Regions from separate parts of the Homo sapiens genome. Here regions 1, 2, 3 and 4 are each linked to region 5. The links come from fine-mapping of genetic effects on gene expression. A gene starts in region 5. Each other region holds a variant in brackets. All regions are shown on one strand. Distances are between the middles of the regions.

Evidence for each region. PIP is the estimated chance that this variant, and not a neighbour inherited with it, causes the effect.
Region 1: its variant is the best candidate, but not a certain one, in a credible set for the expression of FIBCD1 in lung (TOPMed, PIP 0.85).
Region 2: its variant is the best candidate, but not a certain one, in a credible set for the expression of FIBCD1 in sun-exposed skin (GTEx, PIP 0.71).
Region 3: its variant is the best candidate, but not a certain one, in a credible set for the expression of FIBCD1 in nucleus accumbens (GTEx, PIP 0.54).
Region 4: its variant is the best candidate, but not a certain one, in a credible set for the expression of FIBCD1 in whole blood (TOPMed, PIP 0.87).

The regions. Positions count from the first base shown.
Region 1 is chr9:130,903,357-130,908,453 of GRCh38, reverse strand. FIBCD1 (fibrinogen C domain containing 1) reads left to right here. Exons shown (of 7, transcript NM_032843.5): 6 at 3,041-3,220; 7 at 4,131-5,097. The coding sequence ends at 4,390. Among named protein-coding and RNA genes, the nearest start is that of QRFP, 9.1 kb to the right of the region's middle. The variant A/G (reference allele first, on the strand shown) is at 1,965.
Region 2 is chr9:130,913,140-130,918,236 of GRCh38, reverse strand. All of the region lies in intron 4 of FIBCD1 (fibrinogen C domain containing 1), which reads left to right. Among named protein-coding and RNA genes, the nearest start is that of QRFP, 19 kb to the right of the region's middle. RefSeq lists an enhancer at 3,240-3,932. The variant CTG/G (reference allele first, on the strand shown) is at 2,280.
Region 3 is chr9:130,387,255-130,392,351 of GRCh38, reverse strand. It overlaps HMCN2 (hemicentin 2), which reads right to left. Exons shown (of 98, transcript NM_001291815.2): 62 at 3,812-3,943; 63 at 1,232-1,375; 64 at 989-1,148; 65 at 778-902; 66 at 234-417. Among named protein-coding and RNA genes, the nearest start is that of ASS1, 55 kb to the left of the region's middle. RefSeq lists enhancers at 2,045-2,552, 3,408-3,941. The variant A/G (reference allele first, on the strand shown) is at 2,958.
Region 4 is chr9:130,990,910-130,996,006 of GRCh38, reverse strand. No RefSeq gene overlaps it. Among named protein-coding and RNA genes, the nearest start is that of LAMC3, 16 kb to the left of the region's middle. RefSeq lists an enhancer at 363-919. The variant C/G (reference allele first, on the strand shown) is at 2,772.
Region 5 is chr9:130,936,102-130,941,198 of GRCh38, reverse strand. FIBCD1 (fibrinogen C domain containing 1) reads left to right here and starts at 1,952. Exons shown (of 7, transcript NM_032843.5): 1 at 1,952-2,663. The coding sequence starts at 2,592. FIBCD1-AS1 (FIBCD1 antisense RNA 1) reads right to left here and starts at 853. Exons shown (of 3, transcript XR_930398.3): 1 at 757-853. RefSeq lists silencers at 1-97, 1,866-2,075 and an enhancer at 1,320-2,250.

The DNA.
Region 1 (5,097 bases), 33 kb after region 5:
AAGATAAGGACAAGGCGGCAGGGCCAAGGCATGCCCTCGCCACCACCCACCCCCTGGAGCAGCGGTGATGCCCGTGCTCATGGTATCTTAATTGAAATCTATCAGCAGCTGCAGATGATGCGGGAGGAAGCATTTAAGCAGGTCCTCATTCCAGCATCCTGCAGACGAGCCCTGACAGGAATGTCAACAGCGCCAGTCCCTCCTCTGCCGCACCACCCTCCCCATCCCCTCTCAATGAGTGCTTTGTCTTTTCCTATCGAGTCATGGAAGCTCTCTATATATTAAGGTTACCGATCATTTGTCCAACACATGATAGGTATTAACTTCTGGCCATTTGTCTTTCAGCTTTTTCTTTTTCTTTTGTGGGGTCATGTTATTATTTATTTCCTAGAAATTTAAGATGTTTATGCACTCAGTTCTGCCACCCTTTTCTTTGTATCTTTTCTGGGTTTTAGCCCCTGCTTTCCTTTCCTTCCCTTCCTAGTTTTATTTTTTTTTTAAGTCTCCTCTATTTTTTCTTCTGTTTTTCTTTTCTTTCTTTTTTTTTTTTTTTTTGAGACAGAGTCTCACTCTGTAGTTCAGGCTGGAGTACAGTGGCATGATATCAGCTCACTGCAACCTCCACCTCCCGGGTTCAAGCGATTCTCCTGCCTCAGCCTCCCAAGTAGCTGGGATTACAGGCGCCCGCCACCACGCCCGGCTAATTTTTGTATTTTCAGTACAGACAGGGGTTTCACCATATTGGCTAGGCTGGTCTCGAACTCCTGACCTCGTGATCTGCCCGTCTCGGCCTCCCAAAGTGCTGGAATTACAGGCGTAAGCCACCGCGCCCAGGCTTTTCTTCTGTTTTTCTAGTGTTGTTTTAGGTTGACAGCTTTAGTCCAGCTGGAAGTCCACTGGGGTGGACATGTGAAGTTTAGGGTCTTAGTGGTTTCCTGTCTGTTTCAAGCCATCAGCCCTGTTTCTTGCTCTTGGCGATTTGAGCCGGGAGCTGGTGAAGGAGTTGGATCAGGGGCCCAGGGAATCTGGGAAGAACAGCTAACGTGGCTGGGAGCGGTCCTGGAAGGCCAGGGAAAAGCTGGGAGAGCTGGAGAAAGCCAAAGAGCAAGGGCAGGGAGGCGAGGGAGGGAGGAGGTGGCGTGGACTGGAGGAAGGACGGAGAGGACCCAGGCCCCAGGTCCCCACCCACCCCTCCCTCGGGCGTCCTGCCTAGCAGCCCCCGGGACACCGCTCATGAATTGTCACTCAACCCAGAGGAGTGGCTAATGGTGGCCTTTGGGTGCCAATGGCCAATTAGTGGTGGGAAAAGGAATCTTCCAGCATCCCCGGGGGGCCGGTCTCCCTCTCTCCCTATTCCTGCATCATCTGATTTGTTCTGGGTAAGGTCTGAATAGCAGCAGGGATTTGGGGCCCTTCTGCCTGGGTTCAAATCCCAGCAATGCCACTCAGCAGCCGCGTGACCTGGGCCAGCTCCTTAACCTCCCTGGGCCTCATTTTCCTCCCCTATAAAATAGGTAGTAATAGGCACTCCTTCCCCGGGGCCTTGGGAAGCAGCAGTCAGCACCTGGATAATGTGTGCAGCGGGCCAGCCCTGCCAGAAGAGCCGCCCAGGGATTCTGTAATTAAATTAGACTCACTCTAATTCCACTGGATTCACTCATCTGCACGAAGGGCTGAGAACGGTGCTGGGCCCTTGCGAGTGCCGTCCAGGTGGCGGCTGTTGTCATGATTACCTCCCACCTGCCCTTTTGTGTATGACACTCTCCTGGCCCCTCACATCAGCCCTGCGCCAGCCGAGCTGGGGCCCAGAGAGGGAGAGCGGCTGCCCTGAGACTCAGCAGCAGGAGAGTCAGGGAGGTGGGGACCCTGGGTGAGACCCTAGGCTGTCAAAGCCCATGCCCTGGCAGGTCCTTGGGGAGGAACGTGGGTCGTGCGGTCAGCTTTGCTGTGACTCCTCCCACAGT[A/G]GCTGCTCCTGGTCCCTGGACCTGGTGACTGGGACCAAAGGCTTCTTGTCCGGGCGGGATGGGGGAGGATCCGCACAGCCTCCAGCCAGCACACACTGACCCCGGGAGGTGCGGAGCCGGGGAGAGGCAGGCAGGAGGGAGAAGCGGATGGAATACCACTCGCTGCTACTAACTTGTGAAACATTTCATTAAATGCCCTCTTAATCAAGAGTAACCACACCAGCAGTGAAGCATCTTGGGAGTCTGAGCACGTATGTGTATGGTAGGGGAGGCCTGGCATGAGACCCCGGGGATGGGCAGGGCAGAGTTGAGGTGGGGCGGGGACAGCAGGAGGGAGAGAGTAGGATGGGGGCACAGAGCCGGCCTAGAGGGGTGAGGGTGCCGCCAACTCCCTCCCATCCACTAAGCCAGCGCTGGGTAAGCACCATTGTGCCAGGCCCCACCCCAGGCACTGGGGTCAGCAGTGGCTAGGTCGGACATGCCACTGTCACGGGAATTCCGCACTGGTGGGGAAACTGACAAGATAGGCAGCCGGGACCCTGAAAGATAAATACCCACAGGGGCACATGTGTTGGCAGAGGAGGTCCTCAACGCCGACAGGAGGTCAGGCAGCCTTCCAGAAATGAATAGAAGGTAACCAAGTGAGGAGGAGTAGGGACAAGCATCCTGGCAGAGGGAACAGCATGTGCAAAGGCCCAGAGGCCAGGTATAGGAAAATGCGAACACAGATCCTGTCTGTCTGGCTCTGGCTGGAGTCTGGGTAAGGGTGCTGTCACCCCCACCTCCTCCCGCCTCCTGCAGTCTTCCCACCAGCTCAGAGCCCCAACGTTTGAAAAGCATCACAGCTCCACTTAAAGGGAACAGAGAAAACCAAACATGAAAACTGTCGGTCCTCAGTGGCTTGCCCAACACAGGCCTGCAGGAAGAAGGAAGTAGCCCAGGGCTGATTGCACGCACTTGGTGGTTGTCCCTTTCTGTCCCCAACTGCATGAGCTCAGCTGTCATTTATCATTTCTCCCTGGGGAGTCGCTTCCTACGCCCCTCAGCTTCTCCCACCATTTTCCCCCCAACTTCAGGGCTCAAGAGGATCCACGCCCTGACCACACAGGCTGCCTACGAGCTGCACGTGGACCTGGAGGACTTTGAGAATGGCACGGCCTATGCCCGCTACGGGAGCTTCGGCGTGGGCTTGTTCTCCGTGGACCCTGAGGAAGACGGGTACCCGCTCACCGTGGCTGACTATTCCGGCACTGCAGGTGAGGCTCCAGCTGTGGCAGGGATGGGGAAGGGGGGCGGCCTGGGAGGATGGAGGACGGAGGAGGTCCTGCCCTCCAAAATGATCAAGGCTAATGTATTTTTCCCCCTTTGAAAGTAATCAGGTTTTTGAAAAATAACAAATATTGATAAACTACCAACCCCACATCACAATCAGAGGCCTGAAACCAATCTAAATTTTTTTTAAGTAATAAATTTTTCAAATTGGAAGAGTAAACAAGACAGAAAAGGGAAAATTTTCTTCCTTACCAAGGATCCCTCAGTCCTTGTCTTCATCAGTTGATTCAGTTGCATGTCATAAAAGATGAGCTTCTGCGAATCTTCTGTTCGTTTTTTCATAATAGTGTTGATGATGCCCTTCGGCCCTCTGGGGTCAGGGTCAAGGCTGCTTGCCTCCTCCTCCAAGTCCTGCTTGGTCCTCACCCCTGCAAGGCGAAGCCAGCAGAGCCTGGACTGTTTTCCCGTTTTGCAGATAAAGAAACTGAGCCCAGAGCCAGGAATCAGGAGACCCGGGGTTCGGGTCCGCTGGGTCTCTAAAGTGTGGTGGCTGGACCCCCCTGGGCTGGGTTTCCCCTCTCAGGCCGAGGAGCGGGGAGGCAGGAGAGGGAATGTGGAAAAGCTGGGGGGAGGGATAGAGACCGCCTAGACCCAGGGGCAGCCCCAGGCACGCCCGAGAAGGGACTGCGTGCGTGTGAGCTGCATGGACACACCCGGGTGTGGAGGGGCAGGTGCGCTTGCACGCGTGCACAGCAGTATGTGTGAGAGCACGTGCGTACGTGTATGCACTCACGTCCAGGTGCACGTGCAGTGTCTCGGTGTCTGCTCACACATGCAACACCAGTGGGTGTACCCGTGCCCCCCGTGCCCACACCTGTGTGCACCCCTGCGCAGGCGACTCCCTCCTGAAGCACAGCGGCATGAGGTTCACCACCAAGGACCGTGACAGCGACCATTCAGAGAACAACTGTGCCGCCTTCTACCGCGGTGCCTGGTGGTACCGCAACTGCCACACGTCCAACCTCAATGGGCAGTACCTGCGCGGTGCGCACGCCTCCTATGCCGACGGCGTGGAGTGGTCCTCCTGGACCGGCTGGCAGTACTCACTCAAGTTCTCTGAGATGAAGATCCGGCCGGTCCGGGAGGACCGCTAGACTGGTGCACCTTGTCCTTGGCCCTGCTGGTCCCTGTCGCCCCATCCCCGACCCCACCTCACTCTTTCGTGAATGTTCTCCACCCACCTGTGCCTGGCGGACCCACTCTCCAGTAGGGAGGGGCCGGGCCATCCCTGACACGAAGCTCCCTGGGCCGGTGAAGTCACACATCGCCTTCTCGCCGTCCCCACCCCCTCCATTTGGCAGCTCACTGATCTCTTGCCTCTGCTGATGGGGGCTGGCAAACTTGACGACCCCAACTCCTGCCTGCCCCCACTGTGACTCCGGTGCTGTTTGCCGTCCCCTGGCCAGGATGGTGGAGTCTGCCCCAGGCACCCTCTGCCCTGCCCGGCCAAATACCCGGCATTATGGGGACAGAGAGCAGGGGGCAGACAGCACCCCTGGAGTCCTCCTAGCAGATCGTGGGGAACGTCAGGTCTCTCTGAGGTCAGGTCTGAGGCCAGTATCCTCCAGCCCTCCCAATGCCAACCCCCACCCCGTTTCCCTGGTGCCCAGAGAACCCACCTCTCCCCCAAGGGCCTCAGCCTGGCTGTGGGCTGGGTGGCCCCATCCTACCAGGCCCTGAGGTCAGGATGGGGAGCTGCTGCCTTTGGGGACCCACGCTCCAAGGCTGAGACCAGTTCCCTGGAGGCCACCCACCCTGTGCCCCGGCAGGCCTGGGGTCTGCAGTCCTCTTACCTGCTGTG
Region 2 (5,097 bases), 23 kb after region 5:
CTCAGGGTTCCCAGCAAGCTCTGTTGAATGCTGTGCACCAGCACATTTAATTCTCATCAAAACTTTGTGGGTTGAGGCTTTTATAATCCTAGCTTTACAGATGAGGAAACTGAAGCCTGGGGTTTGGAGGAATGTGCCAGGGTGGGAGCTGCTCTGCCCTATGGCTGCTGGCTTGTGCGTCGTCTCTCATGGGGCTGTGAGCTTTGAGGGCCAAGGTCATCCCTGTGAGCCCCGAGCACACACGGGGTGCTGTGCAGGAGCCCTTGTTTTGCAGGGGAGAAGCCACGTATCCTGTTGGCTGGAGTCTGGGTAGAACTCAGGTCTCCTGGGTGCCAGCCCAGGGAGCTCCCTGGGACTGAGCGTGCACTCTCATCCCCACTCCTCTGGCCATCTCAGCCCTGCGCACCTGGGTTGCCCACTCCTCCAAGCCTCAGTCTTCTCATCTGCCTAATGGGAGCACCAGTCGTCCCTCCAGGGCTGTGGCGGGGAAGGCCGTGGTCATCCTCTACGGCACTGGCCGGGTGCTAGGGTGACCACAGAGCCCAGCTCAGTGCTCAGGACGCTAGCTGCATGTTCTGGGCACAGTGGCAAAGCAGCAGCTGGTTGGTCAGGGTCTGTCTGCAGAGGCAGCCCTGGGCGGGATGCAACCTGCGGAGTGTAAGGCTGCAGCGGCCCAGAGGCATCTCCGCCTCCCTCGGTCCCCAGGCCCCATCTGACAACACAGGGCCGTCGGTGGCTGCTGCTGTCTTCCTTCCTCCGCGTCCAGAGCTGTCACTCCTTCCTCCATGTCCAGAGCCGTCACTCCTTCCTTTGAACCCGCCCAGCACCATCTGCAGGACCATGTGGGCCCAGCTCTCCCTTGGCAGAGCCCCTCTAAGCGGCACTTCCAAGGTGCGCCGGGCGGCGGGCTTCTGAGAATCCGCACCAAGAAAACACTCTCTGTCTGTCTTCCCACTCGTGGCATCTGCCCAAGAGGCTGCGGCTGCGGCGAGTGTTTCTACTCAATCGTTTTCCAGCCGGGACCCAAGAGAGACGCCCCCCCGGAGCTGGACCAATTCATATTTTGGCCTGAAAATGAATCAGTAATTTTTGTTTCCCTACCTTTTGCTCCCCGCCTCCATTTTGTTTTGTTTTGTTTTAAGACGAGGTCTCACTCTGTTGCCCAGGCTGGAGTGCAGTGGTGTGATCTTGGCTCGCTGCAACCTCTGCCTCCCAGGTTCAAGTGATTCTCCTGCCTCAGCCTCCCGAGTAGCTGGGATTAAAGGCGCCTGCCACCACACCCAGCTAATTTTTGTATTTTTAGTAGAGATGGGGTTTCACCATATTAGCCAGACTGGTCTCGAACTCCTGACCTCAAGTGATGTGCCTGCCTCAGCCTCCCAAAGTGCTGGGATTACAGGCGTGGGCCACCGCGCCCAGACTCCCCACCCCTTTTTGCCTAGTGGGGATTCACGTTCGGTGGGTGGGGCAGAAAGAAGGGGAAGTGGACGCCTGGATCCTTTCCTTACTTCCTCCCTCTGTCCTCCCATCCCACTGGTCCTCGCTGTGTAATTAAAGCCCTCTGTGCTTGGCCACATCCAGGCATCTGGCGTCACCAAGGTCCAGTGTCGCTGAAGCTGTTTGCCAGAAATACAAAGCCACAGCTGCAGTTTATCCTGGGCTCAGAGTCAGACTAAACATTCCCCCACACGGGAAGCTGGGAGGACCCACCTGACGATCTGGGCCGTGCTCGGCACTTGCACTAGTCAGGCCACGTTGGGCTGTCATTGGCTCGAGGTCGGGGCAGGGTTTCCAAGCCCGAGATCCTAGCACAGGGCCCGGCACAGGCAGTCACTTGGGGTGTGAACCAAGAAATCAGGACAGCCCGTGGCAAAGGCTGTCAGTGGTTCCCAAACTGCGGGCGTACTCCGTGGGTCACTGGCAAAATCAACTGAATGGGTTTGATCAACATTATTTTTTCAATCAAATAGAGTGGAATAGAACATGATAGAAAATATCAGTGCACTAAGGCTGGGCGCGGTGGCTCACGCCTATAATCCCAGCACTTTGGGAGGCCAAGGTGGGTGGATCACAAGGTCAGGTGTTCAAGACCATCCTGGCCAAGATCGTGAAAGCCCGTCTCTACTAAAAATACAAAAAACTTAGCCGGGCATGGTGGCAGGTGCCTGTAATCCCAGCTACTCAGGAGGCTGAGGCAGAGAATTGCTTGAACCTGGGAGGCAGAGGTTGCAGTGAGCTGAGATCGTGCCACCGCACTGCCTGGGTGACAGAGTAACACT[CTG/G]TGTCAAAAGAAAAAAGAAAATATCTATGCACGTCCTTCTGCATTAAGCTAAGTCTGGAGTCTGGATGCGTGTGCCTGTGTGGTGACGTCGGCTGCATCTCTCTGGGACATGGTCAGTCTGCAGGTCACTTCTTCAAGGCCAGACCACAGATGTGTCTTGGCGCCTTAAGAGCAGGTCCGCAATCCGTCACTGCACACGTTAAAAGTGCCCACGTTGGCCGACAGTTGCTGCAGTTTATTTTTTTATTTTTTTGAGACAGAGTCTCGCTCTTATCACTCAGGTTGGAGTGCAGTGGCGCGATCTCGGCTCACTGCAACCACGCCTCCTGGGTTCAAGTGATTATCCTGCCTCAGCCTCCCAAGTAGCTGGGACTACAGGCACCTGCCACTATGCCCGGCTAATTTTTGTATTTTTAGTAGAGACGGGGTTTCACCGTGTTGGCCAGGCTGGTCTCGAACTCCTGACCTCAGGAGATCTGCCTGCCTCGGCCTCCCAAAGTGCTGGGGTTACAGGCGTGAGCCACCGCTCCTGGCCAATTGCTGCAGTTTCTAAGTGGGCGTTGATTCGGGCTACCTGGACAGGAGTGCCGGCCGTATGTGGTTTCAGTGTCCTTCCTTGGGCAGAGGCAAAGGCAGGGGGCCAGGTGTGCTCACCCCAATTGATCGGCACCAAGGAGGAGCCCTGGGGGATGGTGGGGTCACTGTAACTGGCACCCAGACTGAGAGGGCAGTGGGAAAGAGGGGGCTGAGGACTGTGGGTGCAGGGACCAGCTCTTGGCACCAGAAGCCTGGGTAGAGGGGCACACTCAAGGCTACAGCCATCCTGGTCAGTGGACCTGCCACCAAGCACGAGTGTGGACATGGTGTCAGGACATTAGCCTTCAGGCGCTGGTGGCAAGGGTAGGTCCAGACTGTCGTGGGACTGAGGGCACAAGATGTAGTCGGCCCCCGCTTTTTGCTGCTCACGGCCGCCTGGCCGCTGGCCAGTGTCCGAGCTTCGGCCCTGTAAGGGTGGGGTGCCTGGGCTCGGGGAAAGGGTTTGGGGAGGGACATGGGCACGCAGAGAGCACGCAGCCCCCGAGCTGAGTCTCGACTGCCCATCATCCCATCAGCTGGGACGCAGGGGCAGGAACAGCCCCTCCTGCCACATCCTGAAGAGTCAGGGCAGGGCTGGGGTCTGGCGAGTTACGTAAATGGCAGCATTGGTTCCAGGCGTCCCAGTGGTGGGAGTGAGCGCTGGAGGCAGAGCCTGGGGGATCCTCTCGGAGGCTGTGGTCTGGGCTACCGGGGCTTCTTGCTCTCATTCTGGATGGTTCCTCTGAGCCTTTAGGAAGAGGCACAGCTGGGCACCTGTACATCAGCTCACCTGCCCCTGGTTGGGCACGCCCACTGGCTGCTGGGGTCTCCCCACTACCCGCACTGTGGCCTACTTCCCTGCATTTTCTGCCCCGCCCAGCAGGCTGACACAGGGCCCAGGACCCTGCCCCTCCTCCAGGGCCACCCTGCTGGGCAGACCTGTTCTCTCCCCAACCTCCAAGTCTGTCCTGCCTCTTGCACGGTTGGGGTCCCCTGAGCACGGGTGTCTCCTCTGTTCCTTTGCCCTAAGGTCCCCAAGGGCAGAACCGTGACCTCGTATCCACTGACTTGGCTTTTGCAGCTGGTGCCTGGCAGGAGATGCTCGGTGGAACATCTGTGTGAATGAGAGGCTGGGACAGACCCCTCGGGAGGGCTGGGGGAGGGTGGAGGCCAGAGTCTGGGAGAGGAGCAGAGGAGGCAGGAGCCCTCGCCCAGGCCTGGGCCTCAGTGCTGTGGCTAGCCACCCAGCTGGCACTTGCTGAACACCTACTATGTGCCAGGCCTGAGCTTATTCTCGGTGGATGGTCATAGCCTGGGAGGAAGGCGTGGCTGTGATCTCTGCTTTACAGACGTGGGTGCTGGGGCCTGGAGAGGTGTGGGGACTTGCCAGGGCTCTCTAAGGCAAAGCTGGGGCCCTGGAACCCAGATCCACAACCACTGGGCTCCCCTGCCTTCAGGAACTCCTTCACCACTGAGCATGCCCAGGTCCCCAGTCCCCAGGGCAGAGGCCCAGCCGACGGCCAATGCCAGCCAGGCATCCCAGGGGGCTTCGGGCCTGCCGGTCCCTCTAGCTCCCCTCCTCCTGCGGAAACAGGCTCCTACTGCCCGCTGCCTTCTCAGGGGAGTGCCTGAGCTTCTGCTAGGATTAGGCCTTTGAAAAGGTGCGTGCTCAGGGTCCCAATATGCGGCCATCAATACGGCTCTCCACCGCTCCTCAGATCTCCCTGAGCCTGATCGAATTTCCTTCCACCCCGAGCCGGTCACTCCTGAGGACTTTCAGATTTCAGAGCTGGGCCAGGTTTGAGGTAGCAAAGCACGAAAAAGGAGGTGTCATCTCCCTCCAGCTCCCTGACGTCAGAGCTGCCCAAACGCCGTGACGGACACGTCCCCGAGGGCTCAGAGCAGGGCTCAGAGCATTGGCAAACGCTCACGCGGCAGACGCCTCGGGTCAGACCGGGCATCCGGGCAGTTCCGAGCGACTGAAATCAGGCTGCTTAGTAATGAAACTGGCAGCTCGCCGGTGCCGCAGCCAGATCTCTAACACATCAGACTCTGACACAGATGGAGGCCGGCCGGGCCGCGGGCGCTGCCTCGGAGAATAAAGCAGGGAGAATAAAGGAGAATAAAGCTTGTTAAACAGAAAGAGGGCTGGGAGGGCTGGGGAGGCCGGCTGGGACGGATTGTCAGCGGATCCTGTAAATACTCCAGGCAGCTCTGGCCCGGGCCAGCGTGGTACTCAT
Region 3 (5,097 bases), 550 kb after region 5:
TCCTTCCCTGAAACCTGACTTCTCCTGCATCTCCTCCTACCCCCACCACCTCCCCTTCCCTGGGTCCCTGAGACCCATCCTAGCATTAGCATCTGGGGCGCAGTCCACACTCGCTGTGGGGTGGGGAGTGGGTGTTGCAGCCAGTCCTGGCTTCCAGCACCTCCCATTTGCTGACAATCCCCACATGTCCACTCTGAGTGGAATAGCCAAGGCCTGTCCACCGTCTCCCCTACCTGAGGGTGTGGCCAGAGCCGTGGAGGAGGGTGCGCTGGGAGAGCGGGAGGGGCAGGCCGTCCTTGAGCCAGCTCACGTGGATGGGCGGGGAGCCCCGCACAGGGCACACCATGGTCACCAGCTCCCCAGGCCTGCTCACCAGGGTCCCCGAGCCGTCTGCTCCCTGCTTGATGGTGGGAGGAACTGAGGGTGGGTAGAAAAAAGAGGGGTAGTGCGGAGGTCTTGGGAGGAAGGTGGGCTCCTCCCAGGGAAATCCCAGAAGTGGAGACCTGGACTTCTGCCGCCAGCAACCACAGTGGTCCCTTGTGAAGGATGAGGCCCGCTGCATGGGGGACACAGCCACTCCCTGACTCTCTTCTCACCTCCCGAATCTCCGCTATACCCTGGGCTGGCACTATTGTCCTCTAGTTTGAGGATGGGCCATGGAGGCCCAGGGAAGTGAGACCCGTGGCCCAGGACACAGTGTGGGCTTTGCTCACATGTCGCCTTATCTCCCGTGCCCAGGCCCACGCATCACCCTCCAGATGCCCTGGGGCTCCTCACCCAGCACATTCACCGTGTGCAGCCTGGCGTCCTCCCCGGCTGGGTTGTGGGCCACGCAGGTGTAGGCACCCGCGTCCGAGGCCCTCAGGCCTTTTAGCACCAGGGAGCCGCCGTCCAGGTAGAACCTGCCACAGGGAAGGAGGGCCCAGGGCAGAGGCGTAAGGGAACATGGGCCCTACCGCCTCTGGGGAGGGCATGGGCCAAGTCTTACCGGAGGTGGGGGCCCATGTCCTGGCCCAGCGGGCTGCCGTCCTTCAGCCAGGCCACGTCCGGCGGCGGCTGCCCATCGGCCTCACAGTCCAGCCGCACCTCCTGCCCTTCCAAGACATGGTGCTCCCGCGCCACGCCCGAGCTCCGGATCCGGGGGGCCACTGAGGCAGGGGTGCAGTGAGGCCCTGGGTGATGGCAGGGGCTGCCATGGGAGTGGGACAGGAGGGTGCAGGCGCAGACCTACCCAGCACTGCTACCACGAAGTCCTTGCGGGCCTCAGCCTGGGTGTTCTCAGCCACGCACGTGTAGGTGCCCGCCTGGGCCGGTTGCAGGCGGCTCAGCTGGAGGCGGCCCCCCCGGGAGACCACACCGTGCACCGCGCTGCTCTCTGTGGGACAGAGGGGTCCCCTGAATCCCCCAGCCCCTTCTTGTGCTCATAGGAAACTGAGCCCCACAGAGGCAGAGGCGCCTTCTTATATGTCCCCACCTTCCCCAGCCCAGTCTCTGTTCCTTAGAAGCCTTCCTCATTTCCTTCCACTTGAGACAGCTCTTCCCAAGGGACCCCCTCCCTTCAGTGTCCAGGATTTGCTCTCAGGCCCAGCTCTCAGCTCCCATCCTCTCCCTCCCCGCCCTGCCCCTCTACCCCCATCAATCAAGGTTTCTGCTTTTGCTTTCTCCCTCCATGCCCTGCCCCTCTACCCCTGTCTATCAAGGTTTCTGCTCAAGTCAAACCAGCCCCTCACTGACCCTACACAGGTCACACTGGGGCTTCCCCCTGGGCCTCTGCTCGGGCTCCTCCCACTCCCGGCCTTCAGGCCTCCCCCTTCATTCTCTCCAGCCACACCCCTGCCCAAAGCCATCTCTCACGGCCCCAGCCCAGGACGATCTCCTTGCCCAGATCCTCATGGATCCAGCCAGCCTCTCAACACAAAGACACGAGCAACTGCCCCATGTCCAGCGCAGAGCCTGGGAATCAAGATGAGGGCAGCTCAGTCCCTGTCCTCAAGGAGTTCACAATGTATCGGGGGTGGGGGCCATGAAACAAGGGGACCCAGTGCTGACAAGCCCTGTGAGCCCCTGATGGAGCCGGGGAACTTGGGGGACAGGAAGGGTGGGGGAGGGCTTCCAGAGGTGGTGAATCTCCGCTGAGACGTGAATGTTGAGCAGTAGTCAGCCGGGGGGAGCAGAGGTGACCACGGGAGCCTGGGTGGGTATTCCAGGCAGGGAACACATGTGCCAAGAGCTGGACGCAAAGGGAGGTGGGGCCTGCAGCCACCTGACCCGCGAGAGGCGATGACACAGGTCCACACAGAAACACGAACACGGAGGTTCACAGCAGCACTGAGCATCTCAGCCAAAAGATGCAGCCACCCCAAATGCCCATCAACTGACCAGTGGATGCACAACACGCGACACAGCCACACAATGGAATATTCAGCCACAGAAGGGAATGAAGAGAAAAATTTAATTTTTAAAAATAAGGAAGCACTGGCTGGGCACGGTGGCTCATGCCTATAATCCCAGCACTGTGGGAGGCCGAGGCAGGTGGATCACCTGAGGTCAGGAGTTCAAGACCAGCCTGACCAACATGGTGGAACCCCATCTCTACTAAAAATACAAACATTAGCTGGGCGTGGTGGTGCGAGCCTGTAATCCCAGCTACTCGGGAGGCTGAGGCAGGAGAATCGCTTCAACCCAGGAGGCAGAGGTTGCAGTGAGCCGAGATTGTGGCACTGCACCCCAGCCTGGGTAACAGAGCGAGACCCCGTCTCAAAAAAAAAAAAAAGAATGAAGTACTGATCCATGCTACAACACGGATGAAACTTGAAAACACGCTAAGTGGAAGAAGCCAGACACAAAAGGCCACACACTCTATGATGCCATTAATGTGAAATGCCCAGAACAGGCCAATCCACAGAGACAGAAAGCAGATTTGTGGTTTCCTGGGTCTGGGGGAAGAAGAAATGGGG[A/G]GAAAACGGGGAGTGATTGCTAATGGATACGGGTGTCCTTTTGGTGATAAAAATGTTCTAAATTTGATTGTGGTGATGGTCACACAACTCTGTGACTGTACTACAAATCACTGAATTGGATGTTTTCAGTGGGTGAATTATATAGTGTGTGAATTATATCCCAATAAAGCTGTTACTGAGAGAGAGGGGCAGGTTCGAGGAGCCAGCACAGCCACGTTTAGCGCATGGAGGGGCAGGGAGAGGTGGCTGGCAGTGCCGGCCCCTGCTGTGGACGGATTTCCACCAGACAAGGGACCAGCTCCGAGCTGTACCTTCAGACCTTTCTGCCCCACGTGGAGCCTGCGTGAGAGGCACAGTGGGCCCAGGAGACCATGTGGGGCTTCTGCCGTCATGCGGAGGAACGGTGGGCACAGCAGCGGCCAGAATGGGGAGGCCTGGATGGGGGATGGGGTTGACCAACGGCCCAGCTAGGACCGAGCTGAGTCACCACCAAGGAGCAGCTCTGGGGGCCAATGCTGAGCCCAGTGTCAGCCAGTGGGCTTTCCATGGCCCTCAGCACCTGCCCTGCGCAATGGAGAGCCCACGTCTGCTGTCTCATGGGAGCTGACTGAGGACGTGGATGCAAAGGAGCTTCCAAACCCTCACAGGAGACGCTCTTTATGTTTGGATTCCAAGGGCCAATAAACAACGCTTCACTCAAACACAAATGGTGGGGGGGGGGGCAACACGGCACTGCCAGTCTCTGGTTTTGCCAAGATCATCAACAACCAATAACTTCCTTCGTCCGCTTCTGCTGTCATCTTATTAAAGAAAGGAATGCTTTACGCGAAACAGACAAGGACAGATGTGCTCACCCACAGGCATCCTGTCCTTCAGCCAAGTGACCGTGGGTGCAGGGACCCCGGACACATCACAGGTCAGGACCAGGGGGCTCCCAGCCACCTGGCTCACTGTCTCTGTCTTGGGGTTCTCAAATGTTGGGGGCACTGCAGGAAGAAAGCCAGACTGTCAGAATTCTGAGACTCTTCCCCAATTTCCTTCCCCTCAGGCAGATCAGGGAGGCCTAAGAAGCCCTTCCTGGTAGTTAGGAGTTCCCATTCTATGTTTTATTCACAAATGTAAATAGAACCAGTGCCTGGCTATTTTAAAGCATACAAAGCAAAGCTCCAGCGGGGTCTCCTTAGCCCAAGGATGGTAAATGGGAGGCTCACTCACCCACAGTCCTTAACCTGTGCCAGGGCAGACATCACTAATCGATCCCAACACTCTCTCCTGCTCCGCCAGGATGAAGTCACACACCCCAGGCAGACACCACCAGCGGAACAGAGTCAACCAGGCTCAAGATGAAATGCCTTTGCCCTCAGGGACCAGATATTCCCCCTTTCCACTGTTCATCAATGTAGCCATCAGAAAGGGCTGGGAGCTTTGAGCAGCAAGCCTGGTGTCAGTCCCTTTCTTGTTACTTTATTTTTTATTTTTTGTAGATTCAAGCTTCTCACTATGTCGCCCAGTCTGATCTCAAACTCCTGGGCTCAAGTGATCATCCCTGCCTCAGCCTTTCAAAGTGCTGGGATTACAGGCATGAGCCCCTGCACTCCATCTTGTCAGTCCTTTTCAACGATTGTGTTGTGTATGGCTCAGGGTTGCATGTGCCCACCGCTCACCTGGTTGGGAGGCTACTGGCTTTGGCATCTGTGGCAGATGGCTGGTGTCCCCTCAGCCCGTTCTTCCCACTGTGCATAGCAGAGTTTTAGCTGAGCCCACGATCACTCTAGCAGAAACTACATTTCCCAGTGTCCCCTGCAGCCAGCTGCCTGAGCGCTCACTAATGGAATACACGCAGAAGGGACAGGTGCAACTTCTGTATGAAATAAATGCTTGCCCACCACTTCTGCTCTTTTCTGCTTCCTGTGGGCCAGGACACGATGCCGTGTCCCAGTTTCAACCATATGCACAAGAACAACACCCTAAGAAATGGAAGATCAACAGGAGGGAAGGAACCCGGGTCCCTTAACTACCGCATGGAGCCGAGCTACCCACCAGCCTAGACACCCACCTCTGGGCTTTTGAATAAGAGTTAAACTCTCTCATTTACTCAACTATATTTTGGGGTCTTTTTGTGGCACGGCTAAGTCTCTAT
Region 4 (5,097 bases), 55 kb before region 5:
TTCTGATTTGCTTAATGAACGTTAATTAAGAAGACAGAAGAGAGCTGATTCCTTCAGGACAGAGATGAAAGGCCTGTTAATTAAATCTGGGGAGATCGGCCAGGGCCCTGCTGATCTCTCCTGACAGCTCTGCAGCCTCGTTGGAGCCCAGCGTTGGGGGCACAGCGCAGAGGGGAAAGGCAGCTCCCCCTGCCCCCACCCTGCAGCTTTGGAGCCCAGACTCACTGTGGTATCTTGGGTGGGGCTCTGCCCTTCTAGGGCGGCTCAGTTCCCCATGTGGACAGCAAGAGCATTGGTCTAGGTGGTTCCCAGGATGCCAGGTCTGGCTCAGAGGCTCTGTTAAGCCTGTGCTCTCTGTCCGCATGCCTGGGTCTCGATCTTCCCTTCTGTTCGGTGGGGAGACATCACTTGCTCTGCAGGCAGGCTTCAAGGGCAGGAAGTGAAAACTGGGAGGTCTGCCAAGGGCTTGTGGACAACTGTGGAAGAAAGAAGTTAGCAACTGGCGACATCAGCCCCCAGGATCCCACTGCTAGGCCCACGCCCATCTGTCTGTATTGCAGCATATCCCTGGGCACTGCCCTGCCCCTCTGAGCAAGGACAAGGTCACCCCCTGAGAGGCCTCCTGGGAGTCAGACCTGGGCTGAGTGCACCACCTCCACAAGTAGTTACTGTTATTCTCCCCATATTGCAGACAGGGAAACTGAGGCCCAGCCAGAGACAGCTCCTTGCCCAGGACCACTCTGCTCGTCAGCAACAGAGAGCCGTGTACACACCCCAGTGTGCCCGGCCCCAGAGCCTGTGCGCCTTTCCACTTTGCTCTCCATTCATTCATTCATCCATCCATTCATTCATTCTATTACTTTAGGGGACATTTGTTCTGTGCCCTCCCTGGGCTGGTTGCTGAGGTACAGGGGATAGACTGTCTGGGACCTCATGGTGCTCCCCAGAGAATCAGGAAGACAGACAGTGACCCAGGAAGCAACCTGGTGAATTAGTTAGTGACTGATCACGGTAAGAGCCGCAAAGGAAATAGACACAGGGCTGGGATGAGCTCCATGAGGGGGTGAGCAATCAGGGAGGCTTCTCAGAGGAGGTGACAGCTCACTGGAGACCTGCAAGATGAGATGGGAGGCAGGATGGAGAGGGAGCTGATGGGAGCTGACAGGGGGCCCCTCAGCTGTCACCCTCACGGAGCATCTCCTCCTACAGAGTTAACAGATTTAGACAGGCCAAGGGACATGACTGGCCTCAGGGCATGTCACTACTCAGTCTAGCAACTGTCTCAACCTCCCTGCTGTGTTCAGCCTGAGGTGGGTCTGGGCCTGGATGAGTCAGCCCTGGGCAGCCCTTCAAGTTCAGGGGGTTCAGAAGAATAAAGGATGTCCCCTTCTCGGTGGTGCAGGGGCCACAGGCTGGGCTACAAAGGAGATAAACGTGGTTATCTATCCATTCATTCATTCATTCCTTTATCCACTGGACAGATGTTTACTCAGCCCACACTCTGGGCCCTGGGCTGGACACAGGGGACAGAGTGATGAATAATGATGAAACTGTCCCTGCACTTTAGGGATCCAAGAAGCTGTTAATAACAACACAAGGCTGTAAGCACCAGGCAGTGAGAGTGGAGACCTGATGCCTAACACAGTCTGGAGAGATCAGGGAGGGCTTCCTGGAGGAGGTGGAGTCTCAGCTGAGACCTGGAGGAGAATGGAGTATCCAGGAAAAGGGGTTGGGGAAGAGCATCCCAGGCAGACAGCAGCATGTGAAAGGCTCAGAAGCGGAGGATGGGGGTGGGAGGATGGGCATTTGAGGAGTGGGGAGGGTGGAAAAGGGGAGCCAAGAAGGGCCCAGGACATCCTGCTGGAGAGCCTGGACTTCACCGGGGGGCCATGGGGAGCTGTGGGAAGATTTTCTCTTGGGATGTGCAGGGAGATTGGCCCGCTGGGGGTGGTGTGGAAGCAGAAATGGTTTGGCAGCTGCTGCAGGGACCCGAGGAGAATGAGGTGGTAGCCTAAACAGGAGCAGGGAGGAGCTGGGGTCTGCAGGACCCGGGAAGCAAACTGTGGCCCCTGGGCATGGGGGTATCTGTGCCAGAAGGCACTGGGGACAGAAAATCACCCAGTTGGGCTGGCGGGGTGGTGAGCAAAGCTGAGGCTGGCTCTGGGTCTCTGGCTGGGCCCTGGGTGGGCGTGCTGTGCTCAGACAGGGTCGCCGGTCCAGGAGCAGGCCTGGGGGAGATGGGGAAGCCGTTGTCAGTGCTGAAGTTCTGTGCCCAGAGGAACCCAGGAGGCCAGACTTCTCCTGGCTCGGCCCCTCCCACGCTGTGTGTCCTTGGGCAGGTCCCTTCCCCTCTCTGGGCCTCAGGGTTCCCATCTGTATGATAAAGGGAAGCAAAGGATGTCCTCTGAGGCCTGCCTAGAGTGGCTTCCCTTTCCCAAGGCTCTCCCAGGGGTCCAGGCTGTCCCCCCACCAGTGAGAGGCTCCAGCCCCAGCCTCTGGCCCCTGCTGGCCCCCACTGCCACTTCCTCTGGGGACCCAGGGTCCCCAGCAGCTTCCGTTGGGCCTGGCACTTCCCTATAAAATGCTGGCAGCCACGTCCACACTGATACAGCACCCCCTGCCCAGTGCCCAGATACGGCCCCCACAGCTCACAGTGCCACGTGTCACCCACAGATGGGCCCGGCCAGGGATCCAGGAACCCATCCCGTGGGTGGATTAAACACCTCAGGCCCCTACAGTGGGCTTTGTTGTACCTCTGACCCCACCACAGA[C/G]GAGGAGCCCTTTGAGGGCAGGCAGGGAGTGGGTCTGACTCCTCCCCTGGGCAGGTGGCAGGGTAGATGCTCACAAAAGGCAGAGGGGATGAATGAAAGCTGACAAATGAATGGGAAGTGGACGGAAGAATGGACAGAAAAGGAATGAATGAGTGAGAGTGAATGAATGATGGTGAATCAATGAAGCGGGAGTCAGGGGTGAATGTGTGCTGCTTCAAATGAGAGCCTTTCCTCCCTGGGTTCTCCAGCGGCCTCTGCCCCAGCTCTGCGGGCCTCACTGTCCCTACAGGAGGCACTACTTGATTGCCCCCTACCCAGTTCTGGTTTCAGTGACCACACCTGCCATCCTGTCCCCTTGCCCACTGGGCTGGCTGCAGCCACACGGGCCTCCTTCCCGATCACACAGAGCACGTTTCCACCTCGGGGCCTTTGCACTTGCTGCTCCTCGTGCCTGGAACGCTCTTCCCACACTTTCTTCTGCATCCCTTTATGGAGAGGCCGTCCCAGACCCTCCTGCTGACCTTCCCCAGGACTCCCCTGCCACTCTGCGGGTTTTCCCCCCTAGCCCTCACCGCACCTGCTGGGCATGTTTTTGCTTGTCTGTTTGTGGCCCGTCTGCCCCCTCAGGCCATGAGCTCGGCCTCGCTTGCTGCTGTGCGGCTGCAGGAGGAAGACACTGGTCTTCGCCAGCAGTTCTCACTGCAGGGAGGCTGTCCTTAAACAATAATTTCGTTTCCGAGCTCTTTCTGCTGAGGACAAGGAAACAGCAATTATAAGTCACCAGAACCCAGTTATAACCCAAGTGTAAGTCAGCAGAACCCATCCAGGGACGGGAGGCACATGCACAGCTCCGGCTGCCCTAGGGCCTGGCCATCTGAGCGCCACGTGCACTGAGCCTCACCTGAGCAGGACCCCAGTCCGCACCAGGGGCCTGGCACGACCCTGCAGGGCCCCCATTCCCCTCGGGTAAAGGGGATCTCTTGAGCTGAAGCTCCTAAGACTCCAGAACTCACGGGCCTCTTCTAGACCCTCAGGCATCCCTGGCCCCCCCATCCCAGGACTTTGCACCCGCGGGTCCTGAAATGCCCTTCTGCCTCTTCTCGCCAGGGTGGGGTGGCGGCTGACTCCTGCTCCTCCTCTAGGCCTGGGGTGATGCCACTTCCTCAGGGAAGCAGTCCCTGGTGCCCCAACCCTGTGACACCTCCCCTGCTTCCAACTTTGTGGCATTTCTCACACTTGTCATTAAGTGAGTATTTCATGTCCCTCTTTCCCACTTGACTGTCAGCTCCTGGGGACAAGAATCCTGGGGCTTCCTGCTGTGTCCTTGACATACACCCAGGAAGGATGTGCACTAGGTGCTCAATAAATAGTGCAGAATGAAAGAACAAGTGAATGGGTGAGTGTGTGAAAGGAGGGAGGGAGGGCAGAAAGCAGGCAGAAGGCTGGGAGAAAGGAACTGGCCAGCGAAGCTCGGGGAGGGGGGTGGCTGTTCTCCCAGGACTGATGGCTTTTAAGCGGGGGAGTGAAGGCCAAGGGCAGGGAAGGAGCCAGCAGGCCGGTGACAGGGAAGTGATCTGCGAGTGCCTCGCCCTTCACGTGGCTTTATTTTGAAAACGTGAACTTTACAAATGTCAGGGAAAGGCGGGATTCTCCGCCTGGGACCGCCAGGAGCCGATTAGCATTCCCGGCGATGCGCAAATGGGGCCCTGCATAGGCCGCGGGAAATTTCTGCCGCCTGCTGGGGCTGATGTGAAGGCCAGGCGAGGGGGCTCAGAAAATAAAACTGTAAAGCTGCCAAGTCTATGCCTGCCCAGGAGGCACGGCCTGGTGGAGGCCCCTGGGGGACAGAGAGGTGGATTCAGTATAACCCCCAACCCTCCGCGGGACAGGGTAAAAATGGGGGCCACTCAGAGTAGGTGGGGTTAGGGGGCACCCCCCGCTGTGTCAGAATCAGAGAGGTGACCCCTCCTGCTCACCCCCATTGGGCCAGGCTCCGTCCCCACCACCTGCCATACAAACCATCCAGATTCATCCTCAAGATGATCTTATGAGGGAGGGGCGTTGCCCCCAGGCTGCAGATGAGAACACTGAGGCTCAGGGAAGCAGAGGGCTTTGCCTGAGATCGCTGATCCTGAGAGGGTCAGGCAGGATTGAAACCCAGTTCTCCAACTCTCTTAGCAGCCTCCTGGCCCTGTCCTTCCCCACTTCTCCCAGCTTCCAGGACAAACCCCATTTAGGACAGTCCACAGCCTCAGTGTCCGGCTAGGTCTCCCCCTGCTTGGGGAGCTATGTGAGGACTGCCAGAGCTTTCACATGCACGTCGCTC
Region 5 (5,097 bases):
GTCCTCCGGTCCTCCGGTTTGCACCTGCCCAGGTACGCCCGGGTCACTCCCCTAGCTCCGCCTTCCCTTCTGCGGCCCCGCCATTGGAAATGCCTTTCCTTCAGCACCCAGACTTCTGGATGCTGCCTTCATGGGCCTTGGGGGCGGGCTCACACCCCTCCATCCCAGGATGCCTCCCTGACTACTCTGAGCACATCTCCAAGACCTCCTCCGTTGGTCCTTAGCACCCCTCCCGTGGGTTCTCAGTTCAGCCCCCCACCCCCGCTCCACCCCCCAGGGTGATCTTTCATCTGTGCACAAATGCGTCTGGAGTTTACATCCTCTCGCCAAACTGTGGAGTCAGAGCCTTGCATTTCCGCCACCTGCCCGCTTTGTGCCTGTAACTGCACAAGGGCCTGCAAACCTCGCCACTCCCCACCAATAGGCAAGTCCTTGTTTACGAGGAAACTGAGGCTTGGGGATGACGTGGAATCTGCCCAAGGTCACAGCAGGAACATCTGAGCCTTGCCCTGCTCAGGTGCTGTGATGCACTGTGGCAGAGCCCTTCTGAAGCGTGTGCAGTCAACCCTTTGGCTTACATGGGGAAACTGAGGCTCGGAGAGGTATGTTGCTTGCCCTCAGCCACACAGCCAGGGCCCTGTGCCCTCCACCACATCCTTCTTCCCAAGTCTGAGGGCCCTCTAGATCACCTGCTGACCCTCTTAATTCATAGGAAAGGCCGAGGGGCCAGAAAGGGCCAGAGGCCAGAATTGGAACCTGGGTCTCCTGACTCCCAGCCATTGCTGTGGGATCCTCTCCAACTCCCGGGCAGCCTCAGTCCGGGAAGCCGGGATCGGGCCGTAGGTGAGGCCAGCGGTTGTCCTGGAAGGAAAAGGCGGCTGGGGACAAACAGCCGGTGGTTTGTGAACCCAGCGCCTGGCGGGTGGCAGTCTCCTCGGATGGCACCGGGCCACAGGGTCCCCCGCTCCGGGGTCCAGGGAGTGCCCCAGCCCAGGCTGGACGCGGCCCCCACCCCCAACCAGTCTGCCCCGCCAGTGCCGGACGCGTAGAGGGATCGGGAGAGGGACGAAGATGGGGCGACAGACTGGCAGCCAGTGGGGGAGAGACGGAGACGGTGCCAGGGAACAGCGCGGCGGCCAAGGCGCCCCGGGAGCCGGAAAACAGCTTTGGGGAGAAGCGGGGGCGGGGAACGGGGGTCTGTCTGGAGCTGGGGGAGCAGAAAAAGATGGGGACGCAGAAAGGGGCGGAGGAGGGGCGGCCGGCGGGCTCGGCGGGGCGGCGGGAGGGGAGCGCGGCGTCGGGCAGTGTGGGCGCCTCCCGGTCAGAAGCCACAATAGCAGCTCGTTCGCCGCGCAGATTAAGGACTTTGTCAATTACCTCCGAAGGCCGCTCCGGGCGGATTAAATGCTTTTAAAAGTGCTGCTGGTGGGAAGGGGCAACTAAGAAGCCCCCTCCTGGCACAAATCCCCTCCCGGCGGAGGAGAAGGCGGGGGCTGGGACCACGCGGGGCGCGCCGGGGAGCGCGGGCGATCGGCCGGGAGCGCGGCCGAGCGCGGAGCGGCTGGTACTCGCGACCACAGCGCCGGCGGCTGTGGCAGTGGTGGGGACCCCCATTTCGCCCACGGGCCGCCCGGGCAAGGGGGCGTCGTGTGGGCTTTCCGACCGCGGGCGCGAGGGCACGGGTCTGCGGACGCGGACTGGGACGCCCACCGGCCAGGCTCACGCGTCGGGGTCCGGCGCAGGGAGGTCCCCGGGGGCTGGAGACCCCACAGCTGGGCGCACTTGCCCCGGGACCTGGACCCAGACCTCGGGGGCCCGCAGGGGGCGCACCCCACCGAAACTGCCCCCGGCGCAGCCTGGGTCTTGGGGCGAGCCCTGCGTCCTGAGCCGGGAGGGAGCCGGAAGGAGCGCCGCGCCACTCCCCGGAGACGCCGAACCGGCCGGCGGGGGCGCCCTCGGGGCCCGCCCCGCGCATGGTGACTTGTGTGAGTCCGGTCCGGGAGGAAGTTTGTGCAGAGGCGCCGCCGGGGGGCTCTCAGGCCCCTCCGGGAGCCAGCAGGAGCCGGGCCGCCCGCGGCTGTTTGCTGCCCTCCGGCCGGCCGCGTTATCTGGGGGCCAGTTCGGCCTCCTTTCCCTAGGTCTTTTCGGAGGCGGAGTTTAGTATCCAAGTCCGCGGGTGTGAGCGCGCGCGTGTGTGTGAGTGTGTCGGGGGAGGCCGAGGGGAGCAATAAAAAGCAAAGAGAGTCCGAGACCAGAAAAGATGCGGAGATTGAGAAGGAGGGAGGAGGGACGAGGGAGGAGAGAGAGGAGCGCGCCGGGGAGGCGCCGGAGCCGGGAGCGGGGACGGCGCGCAGCGCGAGCGGCGGGCGTTGGGCTGGCGGCTTTCGCGCTCCCGCTCCTGCTCCCGCCCGCACACAGCGGCGCGCTCATCCTCACACGCCCGCCCGCTCCCGGGCCGCCCCGGCGCGGGGCACAGAGGCGGGGACCCGGCGGACAGAGCGCGCCCCGCGCCCGCGCCCGCGCCCACCCCGTCTCCTTTGCGCTCCGCAGCGGCGCGCCTCGCCCGGCGCCCCCGCCAGTCCTGCCGGAAGATGGTCAACGACCGGTGGAAGACCATGGGCGGCGCTGCCCAACTTGAGGACCGGCCGCGCGACAAGCCGCAGGTACGCTCGGGCGCTGGGACACGGGGCCTGGGCGGCTGGCCAGGCGGTGGCCGCTCGGGCCGGCGGGGCGAGCACCCATTGCGGGGGCTGGAGTTTGGGGCGCACCCCTTCGAGGCTCCGGAGGCCCGGGCCGGGATGGGGACCCTCCTCTCCTCCTCCCCGAGCCGAGGCTTGAACTCGAGGTTCGGTGGGGGCGGCACCCCTGCAGGAGCCACGCGCGCTGCGGGCCAGGTCTCCCGCGTCCCCGCACCCCCAGCAGCCCCCTGGTGCACGCGGGTGCAGAGGGAGGCGGGGACTTACAGTTCGCTGTGTGTCCACAGACAAATCAGCCCCGTTGCTGAGTCTCCGTTTCCTCACCTCTACAATGGGCATCTTAACTACCCACAGAATCTCCACTCTGGGCGCTACCCTGTGCCAGGCACCTGGTCCTGAACCTGACCCCCTGAATCTCCTCTGCATCCTTCCCTTTAGCCAGGGCCCTGCATACAGTAGGGGATCAATAAAGATTCATCTCCTGCAGGAACGCTGGGTATTGTGATTTTCTGACTTTAAGACAAGGAAAGCAGGGCTCAGAGATGGTTGGCTCCTGCCTGAGGCCACGCAGCTCTGTCGGGATTTGAACCCTTGTCTGTGTGCTCCAGGGCTGACTCATTCCTCCCTTCCTGCTGCCTCTTCAGGGGCAGTGGAGGTGGGGCTTGGAGGGTGCCCAGGGCTGTGCGGTGGAAGCGGGTGAGGGCAGAACACCTGGGCTGGCCAGCAAGGGGGCTGGAGTCCCGAAGCCAAGGCGGAGGGGAGCCCCAGGGCTGCCCCAGGCTGGGCTGCCAAGGGACTGGGGCAGGCAGGCGAAAACGAGGAGGCCGCTCGCTCACCAAGGAGAGGAGAGAATAGGGCTGCCCATTTTAAATTTTAAATTTCTTCCAGACAGATGTCATTGGGGAAGGAACAGTTCGTGCTTGCAGCTGCAGGAGGGGGCGGCACGGGCAGCCCTTGGTGGTCCCTTCCTCTCAGGAGCTGCAACCTGCTCATTCTTCCTGGTGTGACACTGCCGTGGCACAAGGGCCCAGCCCTCTGCGGTTTGCAAAGCCCCTTCCCATTCATCGGCACTACCTCACTTCTCCAAACAGGCTGGGGGCCAGTGCGTTCCCACATCACAGACCAGGGATCAGAGAGGTTCGGAACATGCCCAAGTCACACAGCACGTTGGCAAGAGAGTGGGGATTCAAACTCTGGTCTAACCACACACCTATCCCACTGCTTCTCCGGGGTGGTCGCGCCCCTCTTTTAGGTCAGGTCTGCACCTAAGCCACCCCAAAATAACAAGTCCCCTCCTGCTGAGATCTGACTTCTCCCCCTTAGCAAGAACTGTCTTAACTTCTAGACCTGTCCTCCAAGGCCATCCCTAACCTGGCATACTGTGCCTTCCCATTGGTCCCTTACAGGCAGTGACTGTTTGTTATTTGCCAACCCTGGGCCCCACACCACGCCGCTCCATTTCCAGATCTTTTCTGTGTCATCTTGTTTGCTTCCCCAGCCTTACACAAACACACACACACACACACACACCCCTTCACTCAGGGACACCCTACATATACTCAAAATCAAGCTCAAATGCTGCCACCTCCTCCAGGAAGACTTCCTGATGCCCTGTGGCTATGTCTCTAAGTTCTAGTAGTGTTTAGCCTGTGCCACTCAGCTGCCTTGTCCTGGGCCCCTCCTGCATCAGGAGATCCCTTTGGACACACCCTCCTCTGGAGCCCATCTCTGCATCTCTCCCTGGGCCCAAGCTCCATTCTTTCCAGGCAGCTCAGGTCAGGCATTGAGAGCGTTTGCTGAATGGCACTGCATGACGCTTCGGCCAGGAAGAGCCTCAGGAGACGGCCAGCAGGCACTGGTCTGTCTCAAGGGGAGGTGCCTTCTGGGGAATGTGTTTGAAATGTGGCTTCAAGGCCTCCAGGCCGGGCCCCGCCTTCCTCTGCTGCTCCCTGGGGGCACAGCTTTCAGCCCCCACACAGCCCAGCTGTCTGCCCCTTGGCATTGGAGGAAGCTCGAGGGCTGTTGCTCCAAGAGCCTGGGCCAATAGCAAGCACCCGCTTCCCCTCCCCGCCCGTTTGGTGACCCAGCATGTAGACAGGCTGTTCCCTGTGCCAGCTCTGGGCTTGTTTGAAGCTTCAGACAAGAGGCAAGGCCTTTCCTGTGGCCACTGTCAGAAGAAAGAGAGAACACTGCTTGCCCTGGTTCCCTTGGGCCTGCCCTCTCCTGGGCCAGCCTTCTCTCCTCCCTTGTGGCCAGGTTTGTCTCACCCACTGACATGCTGTGTGGCCCTGGGTAAGTTACTCCTCCTCTCTGGGCCTGGGCTTCACCATCTGTAAAGTGGGAACAGCAATCTTCGCTTCCTCCTCATTTCACAAGGGCTGTTATGGGGGCCACGTGACAT